2 separate regions of the Homo sapiens genome follow, and region 1 is linked to region 2. Evidence: fine-mapped expression QTL. Tissue or cell type: whole blood. Region 2 holds a variant in brackets; the other region holds the start of a gene. All regions are shown on one strand. Distances are between the middles of the regions. Region 1 holds the start of TRIM28 (tripartite motif containing 28). Region 2 holds the start of MZF1 (myeloid zinc finger 1).

Evidence for each region. PIP is the estimated chance that this variant, and not a neighbour inherited with it, causes the effect.
Region 1: TRIM28 starts here. The variant in region 2 is fine-mapped to the expression of TRIM28 in whole blood (INTERVAL, PIP 0.98).

The regions. Positions count from the first base shown.
Region 1 is chr19:58,542,669-58,545,565 of GRCh38, reverse strand. TRIM28 (tripartite motif containing 28) reads right to left here and starts at 1,502. Exons shown (of 17, transcript NM_005762.3): 1 at 469-1,502; 2 at 29-141. The coding sequence starts at 808. It also overlaps the pseudogene RN7SL525P. RefSeq lists silencers at 482-771, 792-951, 1,032-1,241 and enhancers at 1,362-1,671, 1,823-2,327.
Region 2 is chr19:58,570,734-58,573,627 of GRCh38, reverse strand. MZF1 (myeloid zinc finger 1) reads left to right here and starts at 293. Exons shown (of 6, transcript NM_198055.2): 1 at 293-573; 2 at 2,199-2,634. The coding sequence starts at 2,239. It overlaps MZF1-AS1 (MZF1 antisense RNA 1), which reads right to left. Exons shown (of 6, transcript NR_027334.2): 4 at 1,673-1,770; 5 at 805-1,050; 6 at 1-711. RefSeq lists enhancers at 1-348, 409-498, 1-726, 727-1,588. The variant A/T (reference allele first, on the strand shown) is at 1,401.

The DNA of each region.
Region 1 (2,897 bases), 28 kb after region 2:
TCCTTGTGGTTGCTGAGATAGGACGCACCTGGTTCGCATCCTGGGCGTCGGTGGCAGCCTTGCTGCCACTATCACGCATGAAATAATTCTCCACGATGTCTTTGGAGAAGCACTGTTGCTTGCACACGGGACAGTCCACCACTTCGAGAAGCAGGGATGTGGGAGACTGTTACAAGTTCCCACCCAGGTTATGGCCCCCACCATTCCCCTGCTGGGTGGGCCCCCGACCATTATCCCGCAGCGAACCAGCCCCTCCCCTCCCCGAGCCTTCTTTTCTCCAACTTTAGTCAGATGTCCCATCTCAGCGGCCAGCACAAACCCACGTTCGTATGCAGGACCCAGAAAGTATTTCCCGTGCCCTGTCCGGGCCCCCATCCTCTCGCCCAGGTGGCATCCTCATCTCTGCACCCAGTCGGAATCAAAGGCAGAGAGTAGGGGGAGGGGTGGCACCGATCACTTCGTACTTACCGGTGCCGTCGCCCGCCGCCCCGCCGTCCCCCGAGCTGTTGGCGGCGGCGGGGGCCGCGGGCCCTAAGCAGGCACTACAGGCCGAGTGCAAACAGGGCAGCAGGCGGGGCTCCCTCTCGGGTCGCAGGCGCTCTCTGCACACGCCGCAGTGCTCCAGCAGCTCCAGCGCCTCGGCGCCGCCCCCCGCGGGCGACGACGCCGCGGCTGAGGCAGAGGCCGAGGCTGCGGCCGAAGGGGCGGTGGAGCGCTTTTCGCCGCCAGCGGAGCCCTCGCCCGGGCCCGGGCTGCCAGAGGCGGCCGAGGCCGCTGCTGCCGAGGCTGCCGCCGCGGAGGCCGCCATTCACACGCCGCCGGGGGCGCCCAGGGGGGGAGGAGGGGCGCGGGGCCCGCCGCGCAGGCGCAGACGCGCTCGCCGCCAACTGCTGGGCCGCTGCCGCCGCCGCCGCCGCGAGGCCGAGCGCCGCCACGCGCCTCCTGGGCCGCTGCCCGCCGCGCGCGGGACGCTGCTACGGCACGGCCAACTGCTGCCTGCTCGCCTCCCGAAGGCGCCGCCCGCGCTTCTTCCTCAGCCGCCGCCGAAACCCGCACCACGCGCCACAAGCACAAGCACAACCGCTCGCCCGCGCGCCCGCTCGCAGAAAGAGCCGAGGCCGGGGGGCGGGACAGAAATAACTGGCGCCGACGCCGCCGCGCACGCGCATTGGGCGCCTCACGCCCGGGGGCGGGGCCCAGGCCGGTCGGTGCGGGAGAGGCCGCCAGTACGCACGCGCCAACTCCTAGTCCTTCCACCACCGCCAACCCCACGTCGGTGGGGCTCTTGTGGGGGCGGGGCGGGGCCTCTGTGACGTCACTGCCGCAATTGAATCCGCCAGTGGGGTATGCGAACCTTTATAGAGTGTGATTCCCCTCTCAGCTCCACCTCCAGACCACACAGAAGCGGGCCGCTGTGCGCCCAAGCGCATGGGCAATCCGTCCCTCTTCCTCAACCCGCGTCTCTTCGCCGCCGTAGAGTCGTCTCCAGCCTCTGCGTCACTAAGAGTTCGGGATAGGGGGCAGGGCCGATGGAGAAGTAGGCGGGGCCAAGACCGAGTGAAGGGCTGTGTCCAGGGAGAGGGGAGGAGAGTCTCCATCCCAAGAGGGAGGAAGCTCCTGTGTGAGCTCGGGTGCTGACTTTTGGATTTTAACCACGCTATAGTTAAACTTGAGAAACACAGAAACTTGACTGAATCAAATGTAGATCACAGCCGGGCGCCGTGGCTCATACCTGTAATCCCACCACTTTCTTAGGCGAGTCGGGAAGCTCCGTTTAGCCCAGGAGGCCGAGGCAGCAGTGAGGCGGGATTGTGCCACTGCACGCCAGCCTAGACCACAGATGGAGAAAAATGTGGCCGGGCGCGGCGGCTCACGCCTGTAATTCCAGCACTTTGGGAGGTCGAGGCGGTTGGATCTTAAGTCAGGAGTTCGAGAGCAGCCTGGCCAACGTGGTGAAACCCCGTCTCTACTAAAAGTACAAAAAGTAGCCGGGCGTGGTGGCAGGCGCCTGTAATCCCAGCTACTCGGGAGGCTGAGGCAGGAGAATCGCTTGAACCCGGGAGGCGGAGGTTGCAGTGAGCCGAGATCGTGCCATTGCACTACAGCCTGGGAGAAAAGAGTGAAACTCCATCTCAAAAGAGGAGAGAAAGGTTTTTGTGTTTGTTTTGAGACGGAGTTTTGCTCTGTTGCCCAGGCTGGAGTGCAGTGGCACGATCTCGGCTCGCTGCAACCTCCGCCTCCCGGGTTCAAGCGATTCTTCTGCCTCAGCCTCCCGAGTAGCTGGGATTACAGGGGCCTGCCATCACGCCTGGCTAATTTTTGTATTTTTAATAGAGACGGGGTTTCACCACGTTGGCCAGGCTGGTCTCGAACTCCCGACGTCAGATGATAGACCCACTTTGGCCTCCCAAAGTGCTGGAATTACAGGTGTGAGCCACCACGCCGGGCCCCCCAACCCCCCATCAAGAAAAAAAATATATATATATATATACACATATATATAAATCACAAGAGGCTAAAGAGCAATGAGTCTGTGAAATCCCACCCAGCCCCCCAAGGCATCCCCTCCCCATGTTTTCGTCAGCAGCTACCCTGACTTTGATGCTTTTCCAGATGGGGAAACTGAACCTCAACAGTGGGGAATCCCAAGGAGGGAAGGAAGCAGGTCCATGTGGGGAGAATCCTGTCTGAGGTGGAAAGTAGGGTTTGTGTGGGGAAAATCCTGTCTGAGGGAAAGAGGGTGTGTGTGCGGAGGGGAACCCTGTCTGAGGAGGGAAGCAGGGTCTGTGTGGGGAGAATCCTGTCTGAGGAGGGAAGCAGCGTCTGTGTGGGGAGAATCCTGTCTGAGGAGGGAAGCAGGGTGTGTGTGGGGAGAATCCTGTCTGAGGAGGGAAGCA
Region 2 (2,894 bases):
TTCAGGGCCCGCCCCTCGCCCATGATCACAGAGGAACGTCATCGCGCCGCGCGCGCACGTACACACGAAGGGCCTGCTGACTACATCTGCCGGAAAGCATCGGGCCAAGCCTTTCTCCATTTTGCGGTCTAGGAAGTAGCAGAGGCCCCTTCCTGTAGGGAGTTGCCATGGAGACGCGGTGGGGCACCGACGGAGTTCTAATGACGGCCGTGATTGGTGCAGGATCCTGCTAATCTCAGGAAGGCCCGTAGAGAAGTGAGGAAAACGTGGTGGGGGGCATGCGCGATCTGGTAGGCGGTGCTGCCGTCTGTTGTACCTGAGAGGCTTGCGCATGCCGACGCACGGATTCGAGGCGGGGAGCATGGGAAGAAGCGGCCAGGAGTATGACCTGATCATTGCGACCACCGCTAGGGGAAGGGAGGAGAGGGTGTAGAAACGGGGACGAGGGTGGGGGAAGGGCAAGGAGGCGCTCGAGCTGGTGCGCGGAGCATCCTGGGAGACGTAGTCCAGCGGGAGGGGGAAGTCGAAGACTGCGCGTGCTCAGGAGCGCGGAGCGGCCCGCTGAGCGCAGAGGTGAGGGCGGGGTCCTCTTAACCGGGAGGGCTATCGTGTGGACGGGGGCGGTGGCTGCAGACTCGGGGATTCCGGCTCCCCAGTGAGACCGGAAGCGCGGGGAACGAATCCGGGCAGTCCTTGCGGGAGCGCCCAGGGCTAGAGCGAGAGGCTTGTCAATCACTACTCGTTGCCACGACGACAGGCTTTGGGAGCCCCGCCCCCGGTTGCCTAGGCGTCGTCTGGACCTACCTTGGCACCCTGGAGCGGAAGTTGCCGCCTGGACTTCTGGGAAGTGTATTTCGGGACCCTCCGTAGGTACCTGCCATCTTGGCTATGACCCAAGTCTCTCCCAGGGTTTCAGGTTGACTTGGCACCTTGAAGAGTGGAGGCTTGGCCCCCAGGATGAGGCGGCCCTCGAAATCGATGCCACCCACGGGGGAATGATTCTGCGGTGCCATCCCCTTCATAAACGCAGATTCCTTCCTAAAGCCGCAGCTGCAGAAGGAACAGCGCGAGGAGGGAGGTCAGCCCCACTTGCAAATGGGGAAACAAGTTCTCGAAGGCACAGTGATCTGAAGATGGGCGGAATCAGAGTCTCGGGACTTCCTTGCAGGCTCCTGTTCCGGCAGTCTTGGAGCCTTTGCCGCCCCCCCACCCATTGCGAAGCTCCCCCATCCCCTTCCAACCCCAGCTAAATCAGGAAGCTGAGATGGGGCATTGCGTAGTGTGATGTTGGGCTTAGAAGATGGGGCTGAGTAGGGAGAGAGGGTGCTGCCTGGGAGCTGAGCCATACAAGTGACTGCACAGGTTGACATGGAGGATTAGGTGGAGTGAGGCTTCCAAGC[A/T]GGGAGGGGAATGATGGTGGGGCCCAAATGAGGAGCCACATCGAAGTAGATGAGAGAATAGAAGGTGAAGTAAGGGCTGGCGTTGGGTAGGGGGAGACGCCAGCAGTGATGCTGATGCCCAGGCTGTAGGTGTATAGGTGCCATCCACCTGGTAAAGAGAGAGCTGTAGCGCAGGAATGAGGTTGCACATGTAGAAGAAGGGAAGGATACAGGGGAGAGAAGTGTCTTCTAGTCCTAAAAAACAGCCTGTGGGCTGGCATGGTGGAACAAACCTGTAAGTCCCAGCACTTCGGGAGGTCAAGGTAAGAGGATCATCTGCTTGAGCCCAGGAGTTCAAGAACAGCCTAGGCAACATAGTAAGATCCCATCCCTACAGAAAAATTAAGAAATTAGCCGGATGTCGTGGCACACACCTGTTGTCTCAGCTACTTGGGAGGCCGATCTCTGGAGCCCGGGAGGTCAAGTCTGCAGTGACGCATGATCTCGCCACTGCACTTCAGCCTGGGCAACTGACTGACAGCATGTCTCAAAGAAAAGAAAAAAAAGCCTGTGTTTGGAGCAGGGAGACTGTCAGAGACTTTGCACAGGCCCAAGCGGAGAGAAGACCAGGGATACAGGTGGCTAAGGGAGGGCTTCCAGCTGCATAAGTCTGTGGGTTGTAGATGGCCTTTCTTTGCCTGTTTCCTCATCTGCCTTCCACATGGGGTAGGTCTGAGGATCAAACGGTACAGCATAGACTAGGCAGTGAAGCATTCACTGTACTCCTTTTGCAACAGCCTCATCCTATTTCTTCACCAGGGGCAGACACTGGCCTCAGATACCTGACCTGGTACCCTCTATGAGGCCTGCGGTGCTGGGCTCCCCAGACCGAGCACCCCCAGAAGATGAGGGGCCTGTCATGGTGAAGCTAGAGGACTCTGAGGAGGAGGGTGAGGCTGCCTTATGGGACCCAGGCCCTGAAGCTGCACGCCTGCGTTTCCGGTGCTTCCGCTATGAGGAGGCCACAGGGCCCCAAGAGGCCCTGGCCCAGCTCCGAGAGCTGTGTCGCCAGTGGCTGCGTCCAGAGGTACGCTCCAAGGAGCAGATGCTGGAGCTGTTGGTGCTGGAGCAGTTCCTGGGCGCACTGCCCCCTGAGATCCAGGCCCGTGTGCAGGGGCAGCGGCCAGGCAGCCCCGAGGAGGCTGCTGCCCTAGTAGATGGGCTGCGCCGGGAGCCGGGCGGACCCCGGAGATGGGTGAGTGAGTGTCCACGAGTGGGGTTCAGGACTGGAGCATCATCCAGCTCGGCCTCACCCTGGGCAGCACCACGCTTTGCCAGACACACGTTCTCCCTTGTGGTACAGAAGTGGCCACCTGCAACAGAGACCCTGTGCAAGGCTGCCCAGGGCAGAGGGATTCCAGGGCCAGACTCCCCAGCCCATTCCTGCATCACCTGCAGTCACGTGGACATAGGAGCTGCAGGCTAGGGGAATATGGGGAAGGTACTGGAAGGCCA